Homo sapiens: one gene and its partners. The gene in region 2 interacts genetically with the main gene of each other region. Each region holds a gene or a part of one and is shown on either strand. Other genes may lie near its edges.

Evidence for each region.
Region 1: changes in PTAR1 (region 2) and SNAP23 are lethal when combined (synthetic lethality), as found in Homo sapiens cells (one study listed by BioGRID).
Region 3: changes in PTAR1 (region 2) and VPS39 are lethal when combined (synthetic lethality), as found in Homo sapiens cells (one study listed by BioGRID).
Region 4: changes in PTAR1 (region 2) and TMED2 are lethal when combined (synthetic lethality), as found in Homo sapiens cells (one study listed by BioGRID).

What each region holds. Positions count from the first base shown.
Region 1 is NC_000015.10:42,498,634-42,502,133, reverse strand, and holds part of SNAP23 (synaptosomal-associated protein 23), read right to left. Parts: intron 1-3,500. UniProt on the Homo sapiens protein: Essential component of the high affinity receptor for the general membrane fusion machinery and an important regulator of transport vesicle docking and fusion.
Region 2 is NC_000009.12:69,750,012-69,753,511, forward strand, and holds part of PTAR1 (protein prenyltransferase alpha subunit repeat-containing protein 1), read right to left. Parts: intron 940-3,500; coding exon 770-939; intron 1-769.
Region 3 is NC_000015.10:42,184,305-42,187,804, forward strand, and holds part of VPS39 (vam6/Vps39-like protein), read right to left. Parts: coding exon 3,454-3,500; intron 3,060-3,453; coding exon 2,967-3,059; intron 397-2,966; coding exon 213-396; intron 1-212. UniProt on the Homo sapiens protein: Regulator of TGF-beta/activin signaling, inhibiting SMAD3- and activating SMAD2-dependent transcription.
Region 4 is NC_000012.12:123,587,552-123,591,051, forward strand, and holds part of TMED2 (transmembrane emp24 domain-containing protein 2 isoform 1 precursor), read left to right. Parts: intron 1-59; coding exon of another isoform or gene 60-80; intron 81-2,790; coding exon 2,791-2,898; intron 2,899-3,500. UniProt on the Homo sapiens protein: Involved in vesicular protein trafficking. Mainly functions in the early secretory pathway but also in post-Golgi membranes.

The sequences.
Region 1 (3,500 bases), on a different chromosome or scaffold from region 2:
ATGGCGTGAACCTGGGAGGCAGAGCTTGCAGTCAGCCAAGATCGCGCCACTGCACTCCAGCCTAGGCGACAGAGCGAGACTCCGTCTCAAAAAAAAAAAAAAAAAAAGAGAGAATATAAGCACTCACGTCCCTGGAAAGGATACCCCCAACAGAAAAGAGTGGCATTCTTGCTTATACAAAAGACAACATAGTATAGTAGTTATGTGCCCAATATCTGAAGGCATAATGGTTTCAAATCCTGATTACTGTTAACTTTTCTGTGCTTCAGTTTCCTCATTAAATGAGAATAATGCTTACTTTAAGTGTTGTTACATGGATTGAGCTAATTCAAGCACAGTATTTAGAGCAGTGCCTGGCACACAGTGCTCAATAAAACTATTATAACTTTTCATAATAATTATGAAATATCTCTCGTGATTTTGGCCAGGCATGATGGCTCATGCTTACAATCTCAGCACATTAGGAGGCCAAAGCAAAAGGATTGCTTAAAGCCAGGAGTTTGAGACCAGCCTGGGTAGTAAAGCAAGTCCCCCATCTCTACACAAAATTAAACAACAAAAAAAAAATCAGCCAGGCCTGGTGGCGTGCACCTGTAGTCCCAGCTACTCAGGAGGCTGAAGCAGGGGGATCACTTGAGCTCAGCAGTTTGAGGCTGCAGCGAGCTATGATCATGCCATTGCACCCCAGCCTTGGTGACACAGCAAGACTGTCTTAAAAAACAAACAAACAAAAAAACACAAACACCCTGATTCTCATTTGTGTGGGTCAAAATCCAAGTATGATCAAGTCCAAAAAATTATGATTTTAAATTAAATTATCAAAAAGGAAGAAAAAGCCACAATGTAAGGCTTCAGTGGTGAGGCAGGAATATAATGTGTGTGTGTATGTATGGAGGGCAGGGGATGGCTTTCAAGACAGAACACATATTGTGAAGAGCTTTGTATACTATACCAAGAAGTTTGAAATTTATTTTGCTATGCTGCCTAGGTTGGTCTTGAACTCCTGACCTCAACTGATGCTCCTACTTCAGCCTCCCAGGTAGCTGGGACTACAGACACACCACCACACCTGGCTTGAGTTTTATAAGTATTGAAAGGCCATCGAAAGTAATTTCAATTTCCAAAACACTGTCAAAATAAATTTAAACAAACTTTACATCTAAGTTACAGAACTTACAGAAAGCAACAAGAAGAGAGAATTCTGGAAAAACATAGGAATCAGTGATTTAAATACTTTAGTAGCAATACAACCTAAATTGAAACCCAAACCAAAATGTCAGTGAATCTAAATGAATACAAATGGGCTTCTTCTACTCTTACTATTTAAAAAAACACAGTACATTTTGTTTCCTGGCTCCATAATCCACTTCCTCTAATTGTTAGAGGCACTGGATCCTTCTGTTTCAAGTTTCTACCTATCACAGCAAAGAAAAAGAGCAGTCCTGGCCGGGTGAGGTGGCTCATGCCTGTAATCCCAGCACTTTGGGAGGTCAACGCAGGCAGATCATCTGAGGTCAGGAGTTTGAGACCAGCCTGGCTAACATGGTGAAACCTCGTTTCTCCTAAAAACACAAAAAATTAGCCAGGCGTGGTGGCGCATGCCTGTAATCCCAGCTACTCAGGAGGCTGAGGCAGGAGAATCACTTGAACCCAGGAGGCAGAGGTTGCGGTGAGCCGAGATCACACCATTGCACTCCAGCTTGGGCAACAAGAGTAATACTCTGTCTCAAAAAAAAAAAAAAAAGGGAAAAGAAAAGAGCAGTCCTTGTCATCTGCCCGTCTGTCAACCTACAGATCTGGAAACAAAATATAGTAATGGAATAAAAAGTTCAGCACTCTTGGAGATAAGCAACATTATAATATTATACATGCTAATATATACACAATGTGGAGTACAAACATAGCTCAAAAACAGATGTCCAGAGTGTTGCAGATAAAGGAACCAAATTGGGGCGGGGGCGGGGGAAAGCCTGAATTCAGGGAAAAAAAAAGGCAGCTGATATCAAAGAGCAAACATCCTCTTTTTCCTTTTTGTTATTTTAATCTACAGGAGCCTTGACCTCCCAGGCTCAAGCGATCCTCCACCTCAGCCTTCTGAGTAGCTGGGACCACAGGCACTGGGCACCAGGTCCAGCTAGTTTTTTAAAAAATTTTTGTAGAGACAGTCTTGGCATGTTGCCCAGGCTGGTCTCAAACTCCTGGGCTCAAGCGATCCTCCTGCCTCAGACTCTCAAAGTGCTGGAATTACAGGCATGAACCACCGCCCGGCCCTAATCTACTTTCATCTGGTGGAACCAGTAAACTTTGCTAGAATTGTGTTATGATAATGAACATCATCATAGAGATCACAGAATTTTCAAGCCCATAAGCTTTAGTTCAATCTTCATTTTAAAAATGAGCTGATTAGGCCCAAAGCAGTATCTTCCAAAGTGCTGAGCAAGAATATGATTTTAACTGTTACATATGAAAGAGTTATATATTTAATAGTTATGTATTTATTATAATGGATGCTAAAAAAGCTATAAAATACATAAAAACCATGATTTCACAGATTATCACTTTGGAAGTGGGCAATGTTTTTTTAAAAAACCCATTAAACATGAAGTAAAATAACAACAGTACTCTAAATGGCAAAAATTATGATGGTGGTATGACTCATAGGTGAAGACTCCACAGCTGTCCCATGAGTACAGGCCTGTTTTTGTTTACTTTCTTTCTGGTTCTAGGTTGTGTTCTAAATGATTAGAAAAGATGTGACCTTAGACCGGGCGCGGTGGCTCACGCCTGTAATCCCAACACTTTGGGAGGCTGAGGCGAGCGGATCACCTGAGGTCGGGAGCTCGAGACCAGCCTCACTAACATGGAGAAACCCCGTCCGTCTCTACTAAAAATATAAAATTAGCCAGGTATGGTGGCGCCTGCCTGTAATCCCAGCTACTCGGGAGGCTGAGGCAGGAGAATCGCTTGAACCCGGGAGGTGGAGATTGAGGTGACCCTAGATCAAGATATTGTACTCCAGCCTGGGCAACAAGAGTGAAACTCTGTCAAAAAAAAAAAAAAAGATGTGACCTTTAGTTAAGTGGGCTTGTGTGTATTGTACCTAAGTTCATTCAGTGTACAAGAAACAAATATCAAGATACATATAGGAATTCCACTGTTTATTTGGCACAGTAAGACATCCTTATGCTGGAACTATGATAACACTAACTTTCTAGTGCATAAACACATACTACAAGCACCTAAAGTAAAACCTAGCCTGAGACAAATATTCAAGCTGCAGGCTAAGTGATATGATCACTTAAATTACTTTCACATGACCTGTCAAAGGAGTATGGCAATGTAAGGTGTTTCTCTTATTTGCTAATATTTCTTTCTTTTCCTGAGATCACTCAGATCACTGGATCACTGAGCTGAGACCACCAAGTAATTTATAAAGCAAAGAGAAGAAATTTAAGCCAGCTGTAGAAATTTGCGTTAAGTAACAAGGAGCTGAATGTTAA
Region 2 (3,500 bases):
CTTTACAAAAACAGTAAAGGACATGGTCTTAAATTAGTCTTCTCCCAAAAAGTGAGACCTGAGGTGGGCATACAATGATAAACAGAATTTGTGCACATGGAGGCTTAATATGGCAGAACACCAAGAAAAGAGACCAGATGGAATGATTAGGGATTGTCTGATGCAGTAAAAAAAAAAACTGTCTGAGAGAAATGGAAGAAGTGAATGCCGGATAGTTTTGTTTTGCTCATTTCAGCACAGGAACAGGATACAAACGGCCAGAGCTCAACTGGAACTTGCAGTGGAATGGCACATCCATAAATCACTGGGCTGGTTCATAATATCACTACCACTATCATGCCTACATTATCTCATTTGGACTACTATGAAAATGAGTTTTGCTGCCTATAAAAATACTAAAGGATTAGAAACCAGAGACTGAGCCTATAGGGACTAGAGTCTTCTTCAGTGACATTCAGATTTTTTTTTTTCCTTCAAATGAAATCTTACCAATGACCCCAATACATAAACTGATAAAATCTGAACTGCTCTGGTTACAGGAGGTGCCCTGAAATTCTGCTTGAGGGCTTCTATATAATCACTGTGGTTGTAAAATTTGTCCAGGTGAGTAGAAACTACTCACTTGACAGAAAGGTTAGCACCCACCGAGACAGTGAACAGAAGAAGCAGAACTAGAATCCAGGAATGCTGACACTCAGAGAAGGGCTCTTCCTACTATATTCCATGTCGCTTCTAAAAACCAAATGAAGAAAATATGATTCATACTTACCATCTCTGTTCAGCCATTGCTTTCTTGTTCTGTACAAAAGGAGCTTGTTGTGGACATATGGTAAAAGGAACTTGACACACCAGCTCTCCACACCCAGTTTGTTTTCAACCAGGACTATGGGACTCCGGTTATACCTAGCTTCAGGACATGGGATCAGGCCAATTTCATCTCTTAATATGTAAAACATAAAAAAGAATTAAAAATAAGGATACTAACCTTTTCAACATTTTTCTAATTTCAGAGTATTTTAAAAACCCCACATATTTCCCCCTTCCTTACAAATATTATTTAGCTCACTTACTGGGATTGGTAGATGCTAATAGTGGCAAGAGTATGAGAAAACCAGTATGCTGTACTCTCTGTAGACAGGAGTGAAAACTGGTCTTGCCTTTGGATGGCAACTTAAAAAAAAGTCTTTCAAAATTTTGAAGGAACATACCCTTTGATCCAGCAATTCAACTGCTCAGAAATTATCCTATGCCAAAATATGTGAATCAGATGTTCACTGCAATGTTGCAACAAAACTAGAAACAATCTAAATGTTTATCAATATAAGACTAGTAAAAAAAAAAGGCCCATCCACATAATCAAGCCATTAAAAAACAATGAGGTAGATCTGCATATGCTGACATAAAAAAAGTTGCCAAGATATATGAAATGAAAACAAAAAGCAAAATGCTGAACACAGTGTACAGCACAAATCCTTTTGTATAATTTCTTTAGAAGATATATAGATGCATTAAAAATTTTCTTGGAAGGATAACAAGAAATTTTTGGAGAGAGAAAGGTGGTAAGGAAGGATTTTATTTTTATACAGTTTCAATTATCTAATAATTGTATGTATTTCTATTTTTTTAATGTCAACAAATGTGTTTATGCTTGCTTGCTAATAAATGCATGTGGACCAGAAACAAAGTATCAAAAAACGTTATTTTATCAGTGAGATTTTGGGCCATTTTTTCTTCTTTATATTTTCCTGAATTAAAAAACCACCCAAATAAATGTTAAAACACAAAATACATTTCAGAATTCAATAATTTTCCTCTGTGGTAGCATCTATATCCCTCAATCCACCTCAACTTAAGCTGAAAATTTACATTAAAGGCAGAGATTTAATAAACAATATGTAGGGCATTTGACTTACTTAGTAAATGAACCAGCAAACGTAAAAAATTTGTGCAAAACACATTCACATGCCTTTCAACTCTAAAGGAAGTTATAATTCTTGCCTACACAAAGGATCCTTTCTCAAACAGAATGTCCTCTGTTTAATTAATGAATAACAAGAAACTTTTTAACAATAAGAGTAGTTGAAATAAATGTTTTTAGAGTGTCTATATAGATATTTTAAACATGTCTTTAAAAAGCAGAATAATGAACTGGTTTTCAGAGTTTGTGTGTGACATTATGTATTATGTCCCTGGCATCCCCTTACCAAGAACACAGTGGTTTGATAGACCCAAAAGAGGGAAATTGGTTGAATTACAAAGTAGGAGAAACACCCTGTCTTTTTGTTGGGCCACTATCACAAATTGGTAGGAGGCTGTGGATTTAAAATAAAACCCCTCCTGGAAACTAAACTGAATAGCTTAGAGGTAATCTACTTTCTACTGATCACTTCATTAGTGGCACAGGGATTTATCAATAAAAAGGATATCTTAGGGGTTGCAAGACACTAACAATTCTTTCAAGCTAATTTAACTCTCAAGAAGACTGTGGGATCTATGGGTTTTTATCCTTACAATTGGTTCCGTTGACTCAAAGGTGTTTTGATATACTATATCAATACTATCATAAGTTTTCTGATTAACTACAATGTACTGGGTGCTTTCTTAGGTTCTAAAATTCAAAAAGAATAAAGCAAAGTGGTCTCAGACTTCAAAGAGCTAAAGTCTTGCTGGGGATCTGTGTCAATATCCATAATAAAATGTTACCACTTTACTACTCCAATAATATAAACAAAGTCCTGTAGGAAGAATAAGGACAAAGCTGAAAGAGCACCTGAGGTCAATGCCCAGTATTTCAAAATATATTTTGTGCATCTCTATTTGGTAGTATCCTGAAATCTATCTAATTCATTATTATGACCCCTAGCCATATCTAGCTATACTTGACTAATATATGACTGAATCTCTGGTATTTTCTGATGTTTGTGTTTTACTACATGAAGAATATTAAAAAATAAAGTAAAACTAAATAAGTAAATAAACTCAATGTGATTATTTCAGGAAATTCTGTTCTCTGAGATATAATAACCTACTTACAACACTTCAAAGAACTGCAAGAGTCAACAATATAACTGTTATAGTAACAAGAATAAAAGAATCCTGTTTCTGGGTATGGTTTGTTTTTGGGGGGGATTTTTTTTTTAAACTTAAATTCACAATATAAAAACCTGTCTTGCTCACTAATTAAACTAGGATTAAAATGCCCAGCTAATAATTTGGTATCTAAACTACAGAAAAGAGCCATCTGCACAATTAAAAAACACACTGCTTTGACTGTCTGTTCTTTCAAGAAATACTTTATAAAATAAGAATGGCTTGGATATAGCAGGTGCCCAATAGCTGCTTCCTGAAAGGCTGATTATCCTGGTACTTTAGTGATAATATTCAAATTAATAGTTTTCACTTCTTGTCCCTCTAAAAGAACATTATCTCTGATTTTCTCCTAATAAAGTATACTGAAAACAGCATGTGTCCAAGTCCTGGATGGAAATAGATATATACAC
Region 3 (3,500 bases), on a different chromosome or scaffold from region 2:
TTCCCCCTCTGGAGTAAAACTCAGCTTCTTGCAAGAACTAGACTATCCCATTTTTAATGACCCTAAAATGTCATCTACTTATAAGAAGGGGAACTGAAAGTGAATGACACAACGTAAACCAGTCTGCTAAAGCTACGAATGGGACTCCGTTCTGCAGGAATGGCACACAACCTCAACCCAAAGTGGGAAACAGCAGCTACTGTTGGTCTCACCCATGGCCACTGGTATGTCCGTCCAGTTCAGGGCACATTTCTGTGTGCAGATCCCTTCCTCATTGAGTACCACGGTGAGATCATCCTGGCCCACAGCCACTTTTCCATCTGCCAGAGGTGCAACTAAGGGCTCCAGCTGTTTTCCTGTTGGAAAGAGCTCTTTGATGGACCCCTTTCCATCCACCTATAGGAAGAAACAGAGTGAGTCACCTAGCATTCCCCAGCCAGAGGTAAGAACACAGGAAAAATCCAGATAGAACCCGAAACCTAGAGAAGCCAATAATATTCCTTGTTTGACATAAGAAAATGTTACAGAGTTTATTATAATAACCGTTGTTATCACAATGTAAAACCCGTTCTCTAATGCAAAGGAAAGCATCTAGCCTGGCAACTGACAATGCCAGGTGCTGGCAAGAATGCAGAGCAACTAGAACTCACATTCACTGCTGGTGGGAATGCAAAATGGTGCAGCTGTTTTGTTTGTTGGTTTCTTACAAAGTTTAAGATACACTTGCCATATGCCCCTTAAAGATACACTTACCATATGCCCCAGCAATCCCATTCCCAGGCATTTGCCCAGGAATGCCAATGTATGTTTACACAAACGCTTGTATGCAAATGTCTTAGATGCTTATTCAAAATTGCTAAAAATTGAAAACAACTTTTTTTTTTTTTTTTTTTGGAGACAGTCTTGCTCTGTCGCCCAGGCTGGAGTGCAGTGGCACAATCTCAGCTCACTGCAACCTCCGCCTCCTGGGTTCAAACAATCCTCCTGCCTCAGCCTCCTGAGTAGCTGGAACTACAGGCGTGTGCCACCACGCCAGGCTAATTTTTTTTTTTGTATTTTTAGTAGAGATGGGGTTTCACCGTGTTAGCCAGGATGGTCTCAATCTCCTGACCTCGTGATCCACCCGCCACGGCCTCCCAAAGTGCTGGGATTAAAGGTGTGAGCCACCGCGCCTGGCCAAAATCAACTTTGTCCATCAACTGATGAATGGATAAACAAACACCTTGCCATAGACTACTATTCAGCCATGAGAAAGAATAAACTATTAACACACACAACAACATGGATAAATCTCCAGTGCATTCTGCTAAGTGAAAGAAGCCAGACTCAAAAGCCTACATATTGTGTCATTCAATTTATATGACATTCTGGAAAAGGCAAAGCTATAGGAGATGAAGAACAGATGAGTGGTTACCAGAGGTCTAGGAACAGAAGGAGAGGCTGACTTCAATATGAGGGAATTTTGGGGGGTGATGGTAGTGTTGTGAATCTCGATTGTGGCATTAGTCACATAAATCTAAGCATTTGTCAAAACACAGAACTGTACACCAAAAAGAATAAATTTTACTGTATGTAAATAAGTAATTTCTGAATAGCCTGGTCCTAAAGCAAGGTTTCCCACCCTGAAGGTGATGTCAGCATCCAAGGCAGTCAGAGAACTGAGAGCCTTAAGTCCAGCTTTTGCTCAGTTCCCTTATTCCTTGTGCGCTCTCTCACCATCTGTAGGCCTACTTGCTATTGAGTCAGTGGCACAGCAGTGACTCCTCCAGGAGTCTGCAACTCTGATGCTGATAAAATCAGGATATTCAAATGACACAAAGATGGAACAAATATATTAACAAGATAACAATGGGGCCAGGCATGGTGGCTGTAATCTCAGCACTTTGGGAGGCTGAGGCAGGAGGGCTGCTTGAGCCCAGGAGTTTAAGACCAGCCTATGCAACATATTGTGACCCCATCTCTACAAAAATACAAAAAAAAAAAAAATACAAAAATTAGCTGAGCATGGTGGTAGGCATCTGGGCTACCTGGGAGGCTGAGGTGGGAGGACTGCTTGAGCCCAGGAGACGGAGGCTGCAGTGAGCCAAGATCCTGCCACTGCACTCCCGCCTGGGTGACAGAGGGGTACCCTGTCTCAAATAAAATAAAATAACCAATGAAGAGCTCACCCAGTGGAAGGTAGAGAGAGAGGCTTCTAGAATTGCCATGTCTGAATTACAAGGGGTGTGAAGCTAAGAGATTTAGATTATTCAATGAAACGAACAGTGTGTCAATCTTTTCTACATATAGTATGCATATTGGAGAAAAACAACGTCATGGATATTTACAACTTACGTTAAGAGAAAACACAGGTCATAAAACAATTGTATAGCATAGTATTTTTACCAATAGGATGGAAGTTCATATACCAAGAAGTTGGCAGTGACTATTTCTGAGTGGGGGGACTATGGTTGATTTGCACTTCCTTTATCTCCTTATCTATATTTTCTGTAATAAACACGTGTAAAAACACGTGGCTTTTGAAATTTAAAAAAATAGTGAGAATCACTTTTAGTACAAACATACAAAAAGATTTGACGGCAGGAGAGGAAACTCAAAGTCTTAAAAATACTTAAGTTTATACTAAAATTAGTTTAAAATTCCTAAGCACTGAAGCCTTAGGATAGCAGTCCATGATGATCCACTGGACAGAGGCAAACAGCCTTCATTATCTGTCCCAATAGTAAAATACACACTGTGGATCATCATTACGTAAAGAACTGAGCGTTGACTCTTGGACTGACTTAAGTTACAAAGATATCCTATTTGTGAAAAATGCTGAGCATGAATGATAACTACACATACAAATAACAAATCCTGTTATGCCAAAAGCTCTACTTAAAGTGGTCGCTTGACCTGGAGTTTGGAGCAGATAATCATCTTCCCCAAGATAAACTAATGATATTTGCAAAATAATAAGATTTTACCCTTATTAGGTAGTAGTCTCTCTTGAAACCCACACAGATAGAATTTTCACACCACGCCATGGACTTGGGCACATCTGGCACACTAAAGTCCCCCTGAAAAAAGAGAGCAAGGATCTGAATGAAATAAATATTTTTTTAAAAAATCATGACTTTCCTGTTATTCTGCAACCTCCATTCTGCAAAACAACCCTCACCCTCATCGGGCACAATTCTACAGGCACAAGGCCAGGAAACTACCCTTAATAAAAATACAAGTCCATGAACTGGACAAAGTACATTTGGAAAAGGTGAAAACCCACTTTGAAATAAACCAATCTATAAAAACACTGTAGAATCATATTACAAGTAGGCATCAACAAGCTCTCATGCACTTCATACCAGAGTATTCATTTGCGTAGAATGACAAGACTGGAGTCCTGAACTTCACTAGAACCGAGCCACTGCAGCAGCTCCCACCCAACCATGGACCAAGGAACAGTGGACTTACCTGCAATTCATGAAATTCCCTGTCCTTCCAGAAATAGAGCTGCAGCT
Region 4 (3,500 bases), on a different chromosome or scaffold from region 2:
AGTTTAGCTAAACTTTTTGTTGGTTCTTTTTGTGTTAAGATATCTTAACTTTTCTTTAGGTGGTGGAGATACCTGGGATGGTATGTGGATTGCTTTTTGACAGCATCCTTTTTGCATCTTTTTGTTTGCTAATGTCTAATTTCTGCTTTCTTTTTTCTAACCTCAGTTTGTTGGCATGAGAGTGTTTTTTTCTCTTAAAAAACCCCTACAACTAATTGGATTGATATTTTTTTTGGTGGTTTTTTATTTCGTTGACAGGAGGTATAGGTTAGGTTATTTTAAACTAATAGCACTGAAAACACAGTTGACATTTTAGTAGTAACATCTTTGTTCTTTAAGATGAATGCTAAAGAGTGGAAATTCAATGATAAGGGGACAGAAGTCCCAATTAAACATAGCTCATAGCAAATGGTGCCTTTGACTTTGTAGAAAGTCATTTTGTAGACTTCTTAACCTGAAGCTTAGTTGGATATGAAATGCAGTTCTAGGAGCCATATGTTGATATGAAGACAAGAGTTCTTTTAGCCATATGTTGCAGTTAGAGTGTTCATTGCTCAGGTTACCAGTAATAAACCCTGATTGGTTCTTGGTGGTTCTGGATAAATTGCTTACCGGGAGCCAGCACATTTGGTGGTGTTTTTTTTTGTTTTTTTTTTCCCCACAGTGCATGCCAGAGTTTTTGAAGCTAGTCATTGTTTCACACATTTCATAGTATACTATTAGCGTGGTAACATTTCTCCCAGATATTCAGTATCAGTAGAGTGTTAACATCATAAAGAAGCTGAGTTGTTTGGTTGGATTTTGAAATCTATAGAATTTAGAGAGTCCTACTACTTAGTAATTCCTGCACTCATTTTTCAGGGCCACTTATAGGGTAGGACTTGACTAATTTTCAGGGAGAATGAGGAGTTCTGAAAGGCTTTTTTGGTTTATTTTCTGGAGTTTGATCCTACTTAAATAGTTTGAAAATGTTGGTTGATGAATGTGAATATTGAACTTCTTAGATAATTTTTTAACATATATCCAAAATTCTTGCTTTTGCTTGTTAATGTCAGTGAATGGCAGCTGTCAAATCAAGCCTTCCTCTAAAGCAGTGGTTCTCAAGTGAGGATGCCCAGGGGATATTTGGCAATATCTGGAGGTATTTTTTATTCGGAAGACTGGGGGTAGGTGCTACAGGCATCTAGGACTGGAGGCCATGGAGGCTGCTAAATACCCTATAGTGCATCAGATAGCGCCCCACAGCATAGAAAAGCATTTGGTCCAAAATGGAGACAATGCCACTGCTGAGAAACCCTGCTCTATCAGTTCCATGTGGTGCATGGGGCTTCCAAAGGGAAATTTCGAGTGAGGGACGGTTTGACATTCCAATTCAACTGCCTTCAATGGTAGAGGCCCTTGGTTTCTCCTAAGAAACTTGGGGTTGTCTGCGAGAATCTGGAATCCCAGAAGAGACCCAGTCTTGGGCAGGGATGAAGAGATCCCCCTTTCCCAGGAAGGTTTCCTGGTGCTGTTTCTCTCCTGCCTGTCTGTTCATTCTCATAACGTGGCACTACCTAGAAGCACATGCTTACTCTTCAGAACAGTGCCTTGTGTGTATTTTTGGTTCAAGAGGGATGCCTGGTTGAAAACTTGTGCCGCTAAGGGCTTGTCTCTCTACTTACATTGCCTGCTGTTCCCCACTATAGTGAAACTATTACTTTGTCAAAGAAGAATGTTTGAGTTGGTGTGGATTTTCCTAAGAGCGTTTTAATGTTTTTCTCTGCTCAGCTTTATAGAGATTAAGAGTCTGTTTTGGTGCTGCTCCTGCTTCTTAATTAATATTAGAGTTACATGACTCTTAGACTTTATTTGTAGGATTACATTTTAAAAATACAGGTATTTATTTTGTGCTCTTAGTCCCCTCTCCTCAGTGTTTTACTACTTTTGCTGTAGTTAATAGTCAGTATAGTGAACTTCACATAACAACATTCCATTAGAAGAAATTTCCTGGGGTTGTTTTCCTTTCCTTAGTAAGCATTATATAGTATGTTTCCTACCCTGAAAGAGGTTTCTCTACTGGGAAGGGACTTTTAAAAATGCTTTGAGAATTAAATTGACATGATTCATATCAGTAGTCCAAATTGATGTTTGAACCATTTCAAAAGTAGCTTCTTTTGCAGGCCTTCTCTGAGGATTTTGAAAAGTTATTTTATATTATTTTATATTTTATATTTATTTTATAAGTGTTTTTCAAAAAGAGATTGCCCCAGCCTAGGCAACATAGCGAGACCCCGTCTCTAAAAAATAAAAATAAAATGGTAGTCAGGCATAGTGACGCACCCCTCAGGAGGCTGAGGCAGGGGATTGCTTGAGCCCAGGAATTTTAGGTTACAGTGAGCTATAATTGCACCACTGTACTTGAGCCTGGGTGATAGAGTGAGATCCTGTCTTGAAAAAAAAAAAAGATGGCTGGGTGCAGTGGCTCACGCATGTAATTCCAGCATTTTGGGAGGCTCAAGCAGGTGGATCACCTGAGGTCAGGAGTTCAAGACCAGCCTGACCAACATGGTGAAACCCCGTCTCTACTAAAAATACAAAAATTAGCTGGGTGTGGCAGCGTGTGCCTGTAATCCCAGCTACTCTGGAGGCTGAGGCAGGAGAATCGCTTCAGCCTGGGAGGCAGAGGTTGCAGTGAGCTGAGATTGAGCACCACTGCACTCCAGCCTGGGCAACAGAGCGAGACTCTGTCTCAAAAAAAAAAAAAAAAAGACATTGACAAATGTGTTTTGTTTTCAAATCCTTCTATAGCTCACCAGAACAAGCTAGAAGAAATGATCAATGAGCTAGCAGTGGCGATGACAGCTGTAAAGCACGAACAGGAATACATGGAAGTCCGGGAGAGAATACACAGAGCCAGTAAGTGAATGCCGTCACTTTGCAGCAGTGTCTGATGGTGAAGGTTGTTTTACTCAACAGCTTGCTCGTATTTTCCTCATTTGGAAACTTTGCAAATTTTATGTGAAAGCATTGACTTTAAAAGTGTACCTACACGAGATATTTTTTGAGCATACACATGTGTGGAGCTTTGTAGTTTATTATTGGGACATTCATTGTAAACTAGAAAATGCTATTAAGATTTAGTACAAGTTTTTAAGAGTTTAGTTTTCTGGCCGGGCATGGTGGCTCACGCCTGTAATCCCAGCACTTTGGGAGGCTGAGGCAGGCGGATCACCTGAGGTTGGGAGTTCGAGACCAGCCTGGCCAACATGGTGAAACCTCGTCTCTACAAAAAATAAAAAAATTAGCTGGGTGTGGTGGCGTGCACCTATAGTCCCAGCTACTCGGGAGGCTGAGGCATGAGAATCACTTGAACCGGGAGGCAGAGGTTGCAGTGAGCTGAGATTGGGCCACTGCACTCCAGCCTGGGCAATGGAGCTAGACTCTGTCTCAGGGAAAAAAAAAAAAAAAAGTTTGGGTTTTTAAAAATGTATGGTGAGCTAAGGAATAAGCTAATTGTT